Homo sapiens: one gene and its partners. The protein of the gene in region 3 purifies or fractionates together with the protein of the main gene of each other region. This does not show direct contact. Each region holds a gene or a part of one and is shown on either strand. Other genes may lie near its edges.

What was found.
Region 1: the proteins of NLN (region 3) and TES fractionate together in Homo sapiens (co-fractionation; one large-scale study listed by BioGRID). This does not show direct contact.
Region 2: the proteins of NLN (region 3) and ILKAP fractionate together in Homo sapiens (co-fractionation; one large-scale study listed by BioGRID). This does not show direct contact.
Region 4: the proteins of NLN (region 3) and LEMD3 fractionate together in Homo sapiens (co-fractionation; one large-scale study listed by BioGRID). This does not show direct contact.

Annotation. Positions count from the first base shown.
Region 1 is NC_000007.14:116,248,487-116,252,057, forward strand, and holds part of TES (testin), read left to right. Parts: intron 1-533; coding exon 534-786; intron 787-1,674; coding exon 1,675-2,010; intron 2,011-3,273; coding exon 3,274-3,489; intron 3,490-3,571. UniProt on the Homo sapiens protein: Scaffold protein that may play a role in cell adhesion, cell spreading and in the reorganization of the actin cytoskeleton. Plays a role in the regulation of cell proliferation. May act as a tumor suppressor. Inhibits tumor cell growth.
Region 2 is NC_000002.12:238,179,658-238,183,228, reverse strand, and holds part of ILKAP (integrin-linked kinase-associated serine/threonine phosphatase 2C), read left to right. Parts: intron 1-1,042; coding exon 1,043-1,164; intron 1,165-3,571. UniProt on the Homo sapiens protein: Protein phosphatase that may play a role in regulation of cell cycle progression via dephosphorylation of its substrates whose appropriate phosphorylation states might be crucial for cell proliferation.
Region 3 is NC_000005.10:65,826,474-65,829,834, reverse strand, and holds the end of NLN (neurolysin, mitochondrial), read right to left. Parts: 3' UTR 552-3,361; downstream 1-551. UniProt on the Homo sapiens protein: Hydrolyzes oligopeptides such as neurotensin, bradykinin and dynorphin A. Acts as a regulator of cannabinoid signaling pathway by mediating degradation of hemopressin, an antagonist peptide of the cannabinoid receptor CNR1.
Region 4 is NC_000012.12:65,176,020-65,179,590, reverse strand, and holds part of LEMD3 (inner nuclear membrane protein Man1), read right to left. Parts: intron 1-3,571.

The DNA of each region.
Region 1 (3,571 bases), on a different chromosome or scaffold from region 3:
GATGGAAGATGGCATCTCATCATCGTTTTGATTTGCATTCCTTAATGATTAGTGATATTGAGCATGTTTTCATATATTTTTTGGCCATATGTATATCTTCTTTTGAGAAATATCTGTTCATGTCCTTTGCCCATTTTTTAATGGGGTTGTCTTTTGCTTGTTGAATTGTTCCTTATAGATTCTGAATATTAGACCTTTGTCAGTTGCAGGATTTGCAAATATTTTCTTCCATTCTATAGGTTGTCTGTTTGTCCTGTTGCCAGTTTCTTTTGCTTTGTAGAAGCTCTTCAGTTTAATTGGGTCCCTCTTTCAATTTTTACAACCTAGCTTTTAAAAGCCTTATCAAGCAAAGTCGTGTTTTGTTTCCTTCTTGCTTAAATATATGGATACTTATTCTCCCTCCTAAAAAAGGACTTGCCTTTGCATACCATGATATAGAATAGGCCTAAAAGTATTTTATGAACTATAAATGTATGAACATAAATATCAATTAGGTACAATTAATCATTTTCTACTTATTTTCAAAATTATAGAAAAATATGTCGTAACTGCAAGTGTGGCCAAGAAGAGCATGATGTCCTCTTGAGCAATGAAGAGGATCGAAAAGTGGGAAAACTTTTTGAAGACACCAAGTATACCACTCTGATTGCAAAACTAAAGTCAGATGGAATTCCCATGTATAAACGCAATGTTATGATATTGACGAATCCAGTTGCTGCCAAGAAGAATGTCTCCATCAATACAGTTACCTATGAGTGGGCTCCTCCTGTCCAGAATCAAGCATTGGTAAATGATATGGAACAGAGAGTTTCTTTATTGAAGTTCCTGGAGTATTTATTTGGGGCAGTTTCTTTGATGACCTAATCAACTTCACACATCCCAGATCTGTTATTCTTCCGGGGTTCTCATTACTTTGACTTCTGATTCCTGTTCTAGTCTTTTGAATGTAAGACTAGATACTTCATAAAATTTTTCCAACTCCCTAGATATGTTTACCTTTTTGAGGGAATGGTCTAACGTTCTTAATAATTAGATGGAAATCAGATGTTTTATATCAATCTAGTAACTCTTCTAGCTTAGTCTTGAGAGGATTTATCTTAAGATGGTAAAGAAGAGAATTTTTGTCATAGTTTAGAACTGAAAAAAATATTCAACATTATCTTTGTGTTTTTTTCATTTCCTTTATTAATACTATATAAGACCAAAAAGATCACAGTTTTATATCAAGCTCCTTCCACTATTATAACAACCAAATGAAACATTTGGAAGTCTTTTAAGGTTAGTTAAATCATTAAAGTGAATTTTGCGATATCATTTTTTATGTAATAAAAATGTTCCTGGTCCTACAGACCATTCCAAACATGTCTGCCTAAAAGTTTATGTTTTCTTTCAATTGTACATTTGTTTATTTAGCTTAAGTAAACAGTAGTAACTCAGATCTTACAAACTGAAAAAATATATAATTTCATGGAGAGAAAGTGTTACTTTTTACCCAACTAAATCTATTTAGTGTACCGTTTTTGAGTTTTAACTTCTTAATATACTGTGAGGGTGAGTTGCTGCTATTGGATAGAACCCACTTCTTTCTTAAGTAACTTGCTTCTGATGTGTGTTATGAAACATCACACTGCCTAATGGCCAATCCCAGTTAACATTGGCCTCCTTGTGGTTCAGGCCAGGCAGTACATGCAGATGCTACCCAAGGAAAAGCAGCCAGTAGCAGGCTCAGAGGGGGCACAGTACCGGAAGAAGCAGCTGGCAAAGCAGCTCCCTGCACATGACCAGGACCCTTCAAAGTGCCATGAGTTGTCTCCCAGAGAGGTGAAGGAGATGGAGCAGTTTGTGAAGAAATATAAGAGCGAAGCTCTGGGAGTAGGAGATGTCAAACTTCCCTGTGAGATGGATGCCCAAGGCCCCAAACAAATGAACATTCCTGGAGGGGATAGAAGCACCCCAGCAGCAGTGGGGGCCATGGAGGACAAATCTGCTGAGCACAAAAGAACTCAATATGTAAGTAGAGTGGTCACACTGTTAGCCTGATTTGTATACTTTACAGAATTTTTTTCCCTTACTTTGAACTTTTTTGGGGACTATTCCTCTGAGTTTCCAAAAGGGAATAAGTATGGGGAATAAATAGGATTTAGATTCAGTTTAGACTTCCCACAGAGGGTCATCGTGTTTGAAACTTCTGTCTAAAGCCAAATTTTCTATGTATTTATTATCAAGGATAATTGTGGATAGTGAGTTTTATGTACAGACAGTAGTTGGTATTGGCATGCTGATCAAAGACAGCATTATTATTCTATAGTCTGTTTCTAATCATAATGTTGGTATTAATTGCTTATCTCTGCTGCCCATAAATAGGAATATATGCTTAGGTTAATTCAGTTTTGCTTGTGAGAACGTGCCTAAAATTCAAACTTAAATTTAATTTTTGTGGATATATAGTGAAGCTTTTTTTTAAGTCTCTTCTAAAGGGAGAAATTGAAGTATTTTGCTAATGACTTGATGGTAGGAGGCAATTATGACACAGATGAACAGACATAAGAACTAAACCTGCTGTAATATATTCCTCATAGCTCCAGTTAGCACACCAACCAATAAGGCTTAGTCCTGAAAAAAGAGCACTAATAAGCCCTGAGGTGATAGTTTTAGAGAATCTACTTAAAATTGACCTGAAAATTACTATTTTCCTTTTTCCATAAGTGACCTTAATTCAGGAAATAATGCCTGTTACACACAGGGTGAATGAAGTAGATTTGAATAGCCGGGAGAAAGCTGAGATTCCATTTCACAGAATTATTAATACGTTATTATCTACATCGACAAATTTGTAATTTCAGTAGAAATTATGTCTCTTCAAAGTTGTTTCTCTGAATTTCTACTGAAGTCAATGATAAGAAATGGCAGTCTTAGCTGGGCACAGTGGCTCACGCCTGTAATCCCAGCACTTTGGGAGGCTGAGGCGGGTGAATCACGAGGTCAGGAGATTGAGACCATCCTGGCTAACACGGTGAAACCCCGTCTCTACTAAAAATACAAAAAAATTAGCCGGGCGTGGTGGCAGGCGCCTGTAGTCCCAGCTACTCGGGAGGCTGAGGCAGGAGAACGGCGTGAACCCAGGAGGCGGAGCTTGCAATGAGCCGAGATAGCACCACTGGACTCCAGCCTGGGCGACAGAGTGAGACTCAGTCTCAAAAAAAAAAAAAGAAAGAAAGAAAAGAAATGGCAGTCTTCTAATGACTAGGTTGTTCTGGATGGCTTCCCTTTCAGTCCTGCTATTGCTGCAAACTGAGTATGAAAGAAGGTGACCCAGCCATCTATGCCGAAAGGGCTGGCTATGATAAACTGTGGCACCCAGCTTGTTTTGTCTGCAGCACCTGCCATGAACTCCTGGTTGACATGATTTATTTTTGGAAGAATGAGAAGCTATACTGTGGCAGACATTACTGTGACAGCGAGAAACCCCGATGTGCTGGCTGTGACGAGGTATGTTCTATGGGACCACCGGCATGCTGGTGCCCTCTTAGACCCTCATATGGTCCCTTTACCTAGAAGGCAACAAGACTTG
Region 2 (3,571 bases), on a different chromosome or scaffold from region 3:
AGCTGTAGCTAGAAAATACCAGATGAGGTGCCATTCATCACCCGAGCCCGGTCCCTGGCTGAGGGAGAAAGCCCAGGGTGTTGTTCCCCCTGGTGACAGTCGTGGGGATGCTGTAAAGCCTAGAGGGTGCTGCTGCGGAAAGCTGGATGCAGACCCTGCCTCCTCTGCATCAGGACCATGTGTTCCGTTCCGTTGCCGCTTTTTCACCCGGCCTCCTTGCTCCCTAGGCAGTCACAGGAATCAAGTGACTGTCCACACTTAAGCAGCATCTTTAGACCCCTCCCCACGATGCTTCTGGGGGGATGATTCATCAAATACTAAGTGCTAGGGGTATGGCAGAGACTATAACAGATGACAGCCCCTGCCTGGTGGAGTTTACATTCTGGTGGCCCTTTAGTAGACTGGCCTTAGCCCACATGTGTTTAGACCACATGACTTCAGAAATAGCAAGAGGAAAATTGGCAAAAAAACAAAGACAGGAGTCAGACCCAAATTTGAATCCTGGCTCTGCTCTGTGACTTTATTGAGTTACTTATTCTTCGTGCCTCAGTGTCTTCCTGTAAAACAGACACAATGAACCTGGCAGGGGCGAGAACACCTGGAGGCACTGGTGTGGACGGCCTACCTGGCACTCGGCCAGCATGCACAACGCTTGCCCTCCTCTTTGCCTTCCATAGGCTCATGGACATGTCTCTGGCCTTCTAGACTCCAGGCCAAAAGGGACCTTGATACTTGTTGAGTGCTTCCTTTCATGTCACAAATGTGACAACAGCCAGAGTGAGCACTTGTCTGTAGTTATTCAGCAGAGTTTGTACCAGAGTTGATATCAAAACCAGGGGCGACTCTCTCCCTAACTGTTGTGTCTTTGACACTTCTTTGCTGCTTGATTCTCTGAACTTACGTTTATCAGCAGGAGGCTGAATGTGAAACTCCATTGTTAACTGTTTTCTTCAAACTCCATTGTTAACTGTTTTTTTCAACTGGTACCTTTAGATGCTGCGCCCACTGAATTTCATGACTATTACAATCTCCATCTTCCCAGGCAATCTTGTGTCGTTATAATGAGGAGAGTCAAAAACATGCAGCCTTAAGCCTCAGCAAAGAGCATAATCCAACTCAGTATGAAGAGCGGATGAGGATACAGAAGGCTGGAGGAAACGTCAGGTAACCAAGGGACTGAGAGGAGCTCATGGGAAGGAGGGCTGTTAGCTGTAGAAGGGTCCCGAGACCTTCAAGGAGTAGAACTTCCCCTGTTACGTAGTCTTCAGTGTGACGAGGCTCTGTCTGAGATCTAACACTGGTGACATAGGTGGATGACAGTTGTAGATTTCACATGTGTCCACGTGGAAGGAAACTTGCCTCCCTACATTTGCAAAAGGACAAATTCATATTTACCATTCACAGTGTTTTCTCTGTGCCTAGGAAGTTTCTTAAATACTGTCACTTTTCGTGGTGGCGGGCGCCTGTAGTCCCAGCTACTCGGGAGGCTGAGGCAGGAGAATGGCGTGAACCTGGGAGGCGGAGCTTGCAGTGAGCCAAGATCGCACCACTGCACTCCAGCCTGGGCAACAGAGCGAGACTCCATCTCAAAAAAAAAAAAAAACCAAAAAAAAAACCTGTCACTTTTCACATTGAATAAGTTACAGTTTTAGGTGAATTCTCCAGAGAGAAAATCTGAAGTAGTTAAGACGGGTTAAGTAATGTCTTTGGACTTCTTGGGAACAACTGGCACAGAGGACCATGTCTTACTTGGCTCTGTCTTTTGCAGTTTCATTTCACTCTCTCTTTAAATCTTTGAAAACCATATGTCTGCTCTGGTTTTATTATCTGCTTCTATCCAAGGCAGCTAAAGGAGGGCATAAGTCTTTTCTTTAGAATTCCACTTCAAGGACATTGCATTATGAATTAGACCAGGAGTATTTTCTGGTTTGTTGTACAGTTTGACTATTAAAATTTTATTTTCTGCCAGAGATAAGAGAGATGTCATCTCTTAGTATAAGACTGCACTTACCTATCCTTTGAAGTGTAGTTTCTCTTCTGTTGTTCATTTGGGGAAGCCTTTTTTATTGCTCCAGGCTGAATCTAGTCAGTGGTACAGGGAGGTTTCTGGAGAGTAGTTGGAACCCTTAGCGTTTGTTCAAAAAGCTCTTGGATTAGTAAGAAGCAGTTTCATTCACGGTCGCTGCAGTTTACATGAGCAGTGATGGGATTATAGGCCTGGTTTCAGGCCTCAAGCAGTGCTGTTGGCCCAGTTTTTGCCACCGTAACTACTGTCCTGGTAACTACTGTGGACAGTCATGCCTGAGAATGTGACTCTAACATGAGCGTAAGCATCACCTCTTCTCCCCTTTCTTGTAAGTTTTACATTCATTCTGCTTTTGCCTGAACTCCTTGAAAATAATTGGATACTGACAGTCCGATGGCTGAAAGTAAGGCCAGTTGTGTTGCAGTTGCTTCCTATATCCCAGTCCTTACCTGATTCAGAGAAGTGTTTACATGCCTTAGAGAAATCATTTGACAGTGTGGGTTTTGGGTGACTCCTTCATCTCAGAGAAGGGCTGAGGCTAAGAGACCAGCAGCGTGGGTCGCTGCCCCTGAGCAGCAGAGCCCTGTCGTGGTCTGTTCTCCTGCCTGAGGCCAGGGCTGGCTGCCCCACTCTCAGCTTTTATCATTAAATTTTTCAGACATACAGAAGAAACTTGACAATAGTAAAACATTTCCAAATCTACTAGCAGTGAACATTGTGTCATGTTTAGTCTGTATAGATGTGTGTCAGGCTGAGCTGTTTAAAAGTTGCAGATATGATGACATAACAGCCTAAATACTTAAGCATGCATCTCCTGAAGATAAGGACGTTCTTGACATAATTAGTGAGAATTTTCACACCTAAGACAATAATATTTCCTTAGGTTAAGTTATCTAATACCCTGTCTATATTTTTATTTCCCGAGTTATCCCCAAAGTATCTTTGTTTCAAACCAGGGTCTAGTCAGCATCCATGTCTGCCGTGGACTTGGCATTTCTTTTTCTTTTTCTTTTTCTTTCTTTCTTTTTTTTTTTTGAGAGAGAGAATCTTGATCTGTTGCCTGGAGTGCAGTGGCACGATCACAGCTCACCGCAGCCTTGACCTCTGAGGTTGAAGCGATCCTCCAGCCTCAGCCTCCCAAGTAGCTGGGACCACAGGCATGTGCCACTGTGCCTGGCTATTTTTTTATTTTTTGGTAGAGACAGGGTCTCTGTCTGTGTTTTCCAGGCTGAGCTAAGTGATCCTTCTGCCTTGGCCTCCCAGAGTGCAGGGAATACAGGTGTGAGCCACTGCACCCTGCCGAGACTCATTTCTTACCAGGCTTTGAACCATGTTATAGGCCAGCAGTTGTACAGAGTCACCAATATTCTGAACCTGCGTATTTTTTTACGGTGTTATTTCTGTATATTTCCTATAAACTGGAAGTTAGGTGTAAGACCTTCTTTAGATTCAGATGAGATGTTTTTAGCAATGTTTTATGGGGGATGCTGTATACTCAGTAGTCCTTCACTTCAGTAGGCACATAATGTGACCCTTAATTAAGTT
Region 3 (3,361 bases):
GGGGTGTCTTTTTGTATCCTCATTGCCAAGCACAGCGCCTGACACATAATGGGCACGTTAGAGTCTTTGAAATGAATTCAAAAAACAAATGTTTGAAAGCACATTTTTAAAGACAGTAGTTCTTAATTTCTTCTGATTAAAGCTAAGGACTCTATCCCTAGAAAAATGCAGGTATCCATGCACACGAACATATCTAATATAATTTCAGGGCAATCATGGGACATCTGCTTGCTCTGCCCTTTTCATAGACCCCCCAAGAAAACCAGATGAACAAATTCCGAGGTTTCAATACATAATCATAGGGAGAAGCTGAGAAGCTTTAGAAACGTTCTCCATTGCCAATTTTTTTCTTTTCTTTTTTTTTTTTTTTACAAAAAACATGTTTCTTTCATTTACCTCATGCAGAAACTCTCAGTACACTAAGAAAGGACTCTCATGTAGAAATCTGCCCCCCGCAGGTGTAGAAATAACTTATCCACATAGTTTTAGGTTTAGTTACAAATTAGGTATTTTGCAGTTACCATAGAAAAAGGCATCTTTATAACAAAAGATAATTTTAAAGAAGGTATATTTATTTAACAAACATGTATGAACTATTCATTAACAATCCAGGACTGTGGAGGACAGGGGACAGAAACAAGCCTCGAAGAGATCACAATATGGTGGAGTGCATGCATGGCACACCTGGCTATCTGAATCAGACGTTTGCCTCTGTGTGTGTGATGAAGACAGTAGTGAGTGGAATGGACAGAGAGTAACTGTAAATTCTGTAGGGAGGAAAACGAACGTTTACTCATTCTCTAACAGTCTTTTGCTTTACTATGGTCATATACAACAGTTAATCTCCCATCCTCAGTTCCCAGATACCCACCAGAAAACCGGTAATTAACCTCTGGATAAACTTTCACTGATTACAGATGAGGAGCGAGGCAACCTTAAGCCATAAACAATATTCCTACAGTATGGGGGAGCCGCAATCATCTGAATGCCAGTTTTCAGAGCCAGCCTGTGAACGTTTCATCTGAGGGATGTTTTCCCGATGATCATCTTATCATTATCGCATCTTAAAAGCTGGAGAAGCCCTAAAAGCCGGTTTGGCACAAATGTCAACTCAAGGGAGGAATGCCCTCTGTAACACTCCTGGCAGCTACAGGCTTTCCACAGCAGCGGAATGTATTTTTAACCAACAAAAAGTATTAGAAACAGCTTCCTCGTACTGAACTAAATCCTCCTCATATTTTCCAACCGTTTCTCTAATGGAATTTAATTGTTTCCATTTGGTTTCTGAAGCAATACAGAATTAGCCTATTCTCTCTCCCATTTCCTTCAAGAATTTGAAAACAATTATCATCTGTATTTCTGAATTATCTCCAGACTGAACTTCCCTAATTCTTTTTTATTTTTCTTTTGAGAAGTATTTTCAAAGTTATCACCATCTTGTTACTGCTCCTGCAAACACTGTACTACTTGGCCAAAGTCTGCTTAAAATGTGATATCTAGAAAGGAACACAATATTCCAACAGTAATTGATCTTACACTGGAGTCCGGGGGGATTATTCTTTTGATCTAGGCACATACTTCCATCAACACATTCTTAAAAAGCCTTAGTTCTCGCCTCCCGTCCCCCTCCCCCGGTGTGCTGTACCATGAGCTGATATTGGAATTTGGCCAAATAAAACTGCCAACTCTTTTTTCCTGAATACTACTATCAAGTCAGGCTTCCCCTTCTTTTACCTGGGTAATGGAATGTGTCTAATTTCATTTTGAGCTTGTCTCCACATTGAAATATTTTTAAACATTATTATTTTTTTACTTTTGAGACAAGAGTTTCACTCTGTTGCCCAGGCTGGAATGAAGCGGCACAATGTCGGCTCACTGCAACCTCCACCTCCGGGGTTCAAATGATTCTTCTGCCTCAGCCTCCTGAGTAGCTGGGAGTACAGGCATGTGCCACAACACCTGGCTAATTTTTGTATTCTTTAGTAGAGACGGGTTTCGCCATGTTGGCCAAGCTGGTCTTGAACTCCTGAACTCAGGTGATCCACCCATCTTGGCATCCCAAAGTGCTGAGATTACAGGCGTGACCCACCTTGCCCGGCCAAAATAATTTTAGATGTTAATAACATCATCATACTTAATAATTCCAGCCCTATTATCTGTACATTTGATACCTTTTTATGGGACTTTTTTTTCATTTTTAGCCAAATGACTTGAAATTACTCCCAGTTTAACGTTAATCATCATGCAACTATCTCAGACTGTTTCAATAGCTAGTAATCCACCTGGATAACTATTATCCAGTCACATTCTCCATCTTAGCCACAAAGATATCAACAGCAATGCGTGTCTTGCTGGACGCAATGAACAAACTATTTCTAGCCAGTTTCTCTCATGACAAATGCTAGAGACATTTTATCATAGGAGTACAATTGAGGTGAGCCTCTGGGGTCTATGAAATATGCAGCTAGTACAGGTTCCAGCTCATGTGAGCAGAATAAGGGAGTCTATTTCCTGTTCACCCCTTCCCCTTGTACGTACATCGTGGACTAGATGTGTTGAACCTGTATTTTCTCAGGAAAGGGAACTACAAGGTGAATTCAACCAAATCAAAACTCAGGAATCACGGTGTGGTGTGGGGGTGTGTGCATCGCTGTGTACATTACCTCAATTTTTCAAATTTTGTTTTGTTACAGACGTACAGCATTATTGTGTTTGTTAAAAAAGGCTATTTTGGTCTAATATTTACATCTTATAACCTTTACCTTTTGCCTTGATACAGCTGATACTAGATAATCACTTAGGTGGATCTGTTTCCAGTGGGAAATTTCTCTATTAAAGGTGACTCAAAAAATAAACTTTTTGGACGTTGACTGTTTTTCGAAGAACTGAGGGTATGTATGTCTTTCCTTTTCCTTTTTTTTTTATTTTATTTTAAGACAGGGTCTCTGTCACCCAGGCTGGAGTGCAGTGGCGTGATTATGGCTCATGGCAGCCTTGACCTTCTTGGGCTCAAGCAATCCTCCCACCTCAGCCTCCCAAGTAGCTGGGACTACAGGCATGTGCCACCATCCCTAGCTAATTTTTTTAGTTTTTGTAGAGACAGGGTCTCACTGTGTTGCTCAGGCTGGTCTCAAACTCTTGAGCACAAAGGATCCTCCTGCCTCAACCTTCCAAAGTGTTAGGATTACAGGTGTGAGCCACCACATTCATTTCTTTGTTGCTTTTATTCTCACCACACATTTATAAGAGAAGGCATGTTCAATTTCAGTGGGCTATCCAATTTCAGATGGGAGACATCTAACTGTAATGTGTTGATTTGAGGGAAGAAGCTGTGGTCACTGCATCTATTCAAATAAAATGG
Region 4 (3,571 bases), on a different chromosome or scaffold from region 3:
ATCATTAGTAATAAAATTTTCACAAACAAGTTAGTAGTACTTATTTATTAACAAATACATTTTGGAGAGTTCCAACAGTTTAAGGTGTCCTTCTCTTTTAAACAACTTACAAACTATATAATTATCTTTGCACTGAGGCTATAAATTTCCATTTATATAACATATTTTTCAGATAGGGAAAGTTAATATTGAATAATCAATGAGCAAGGAGAAGCAAGCTTTAAGAACTTCCCAACTCTTAGGAATCATGAAAATAATTTTTCATGATTATTTTAGTGTCCCTGAAATTATCAAATGCATCATTTCCATTAAAACATATATGAGTATAAAGGGAAAATATGAAGTTTATTCAAAAGGAGCAAAAAAGGGAGATCAAATGTATGAAAAGTTCTTTATATCCTAAAAATGAACAACAGAAAGAACAAGTTGTAATTGGTAATACAAATCAAAAGATCACTTTCCCTACCAGTTTTGAGACTGCAAATATTTTAAAAATTAGAAATAGTTTTAATATTGTATTATTGTTCTATGTATTATATATTATAGTTTGCTTCATAGCAGATGCCCCCTCCCCCTTAATTAATCTAAAACCTTAAGGATAAATAGTTCCATGTGATTCATAATTGTTGAATGAATACAACTTTTCCTAAAGTTGTTAGGTTTCATAGATTATTCCTGCCACTTCTAGGATTTTATGAATCTATACTTGTCACAGTTTTCTGAAAATAAAGACAATAATAGTAGAGAACATATATCAAGTCCTTATTTATACATATTAAAAGGCAATCTAGAAGAACAGTTAAGAGCCACTGTCTGAGTTCAAATACTGCCGCTTCACTTACTAGCTACATGACCCTGGGCGAGTTACTTCTCAGTGTCTCCATTTACTTATAAAATGGGATAAGTACCTACCTCATAAGGATTAAATAATAATTGTTTAGCTCAGTGCCTGGAACACAGTTAATGCTACGTAAGGGTTAGTTATTATTATTACTATGTGCCATGTATGAGTTTTACTTTACACACATTACTTCATTCTCATTTAACCTATTTTTCATATGAGGATATTGAGGTTTACAATGGCTAAGCAACTTGCCTTAGTGAAAAAAAGCTAGTAAGTGGAAGGGCCAATATTGAAGCCCAGGTTCTCTGATAGCTATGCCAGTGTATCCTCAAACTAGTCTCCGTGGATATATCTGTAGAGATTCACAAGTTTTTCCTCATTATTTTTAATTTAAATCATTCTAGGGAAAATTTTCAAATGAAAAACATTTTCATAGAGTAGACTTTAATTTCTGAAATCATCAAACTGGTATATGCAAATCCCTGGCATTCACGGGAATATTCTCATAGATCTAGGATTTTTTTTTTTTTCTTACAAAGCAGTCAACTCGTAAAACTTCAAACATAACATGGAGCTTTCATTCTTCAAGAATGAGAGAATAGGCCGGCTGCTATGGCTGACACCTGTAATCTCAGCACTTTGGGAGGCGAAGGTGACAGGATCGCTTGAGCCCAGGAGTTCAAGACCAGCCTGGACAACAAAGTGAGATCCTGTCTCAACAAAAAATACAAAAAATTTGCCAGATGTGGTGATGCAGATCTATAGTCCCAGCTACTCAGGAGGCTGAGCTGTGAGGATTGCTTGAGTCCTGGGAGGTTGAGGCTGCAGTAAGCCATGATCACACCACTGCAATCCAACCTGGGTGACACAGCAAGACCCTGTCTCATATTGAAAAAAAAAAAAAAAGAATGAGAGCAACAGCTATTTTTCAAAATCCTTATTCCCCATATTCATTTTAGATACCAAGTTCGGGACCTTTTGGCTAGTCTACTTTAAGAAGTAAAAATATTTTTTAAACGACAATGACATTAAAACATGTTACTTCTTTGTAACAACTGGTCTTGATTTTAAAGAAAACAACAACACATTAAAAAAACAAACATTTAAAAGTATTCCCTTAGTAAACAGTACTAGTACTCACATTCAGCACCAGTCTCTCATCTTTACTCCAATTCTGTATCTACAAGAGCCTACAAGAATTTTTCACTTGAACAACTCAAATAATAAGCCCCAAGTAAACTCATTTTCCCTAGACCACTTTTCCCCAAACAAGATCCCTCTTCCACATCTCTAATTCCTCCAATGATATTATCATTCTCTCAGTCATCCAGGCTCATGGCCAGAATAATCTTTGACTCCTATCTGTCTCTTATTCTCTATACTCAAAACCATATGTCTTTCTTCAAATGAATTTCATTCATAGGCCCAACTCCATTCCCACTTATCCACCTCCTTCAGGTGTCATCACCCTACTCCTTCCCTCCAACCCTATCACTGTCTAAACCATCACCTGTTTATCCTTCTTAAAGGACCAATTCGATCATGCTTGTCCTCTGCTTTATAACCTCCATGAATTGCCATTACTCAACCTACAGAATAAAATCCAAATGTTGAATTTAGAACTTTTGATCATGTAAGACTGATCATTTGAGAATTTACAGTGAATTCTCCCCTTTTATAAAAGTGTGTAACCACATAATATCCTGTATGTTTCTTAGCCATTTCCTATTACTGTTATTAGTGGTGTGGAGGCTTCTACAGAAATAAGATTTCTTTTATATATCCTTACCAGATACTAAGTAGATAACCAATTACCGAGTTAGATACTACCAGTTAACAGTGCATATATCCTGAGTACCTGATATGTGATCATTTATTCAACAGATATTTGCTGAATAATGAATCTGTGCTGAAGATACTAATGTGACTTCCATCTACTAAGAGATTTCCATGTGCCAGACAACACTAGTTTAGATGCATTATCTCACTTAATACAAGTCATCCTCAGATAGTATTATCAATCTCATTTTTAGTATGAGGCAATTATATCTCTAGTATAGTCTACTTTAAAAAGTAGAGCCAAAATCAGAACTGAGTAAAAAGTTTGTACTCTTTAACACTGTATTCTACTCCTATAGAAATATTACTCTAAAGAAAGGAGCTGTCATCTATTTGGCATGGTGGACACACAAATATAATACTTTGTCCTAAATACTATGAAGGATGCAATTAATGTCTTATTTGAGCACAAAATGATGGGCCAAACTCTAGGGTAAAAAGATGGAGAGTCAGAGATATCTGGAGATGACATGTTTAAGAATGAATCACAGTTACAAAATAAAGAAACATTCCCAAAAAAGGGGATAACCTGTGCAAAGGTAGAAAAGCACAAATTTCATGACTTACTCAGAAAACAGCAAACAGTTCAGTTTTCTAGAAAGTAAGTGTGATAAGGGAGACTGGTAGAAAGGGCAAGCATAGTCAGATCATGAACAGTTTAGCCAACGAGTTTAGATTTTGGCCAATAACTAAGAGAAAGCCATTGTGTAATTTTAAGCAAGAGGGAATGATCACATTTGTGCTTTAGAAACGCTGCTCTGTACTGACAAATGGACTGGAAGAGCTACAGCCTAGAAGCAGGGACACCATTTTAGGTTACTGAAAGAGTTCAGGCAAGAGACTAACCTAGAACAGTGGCGAGGGACAGAAAAAGATTGATTCAAAAGA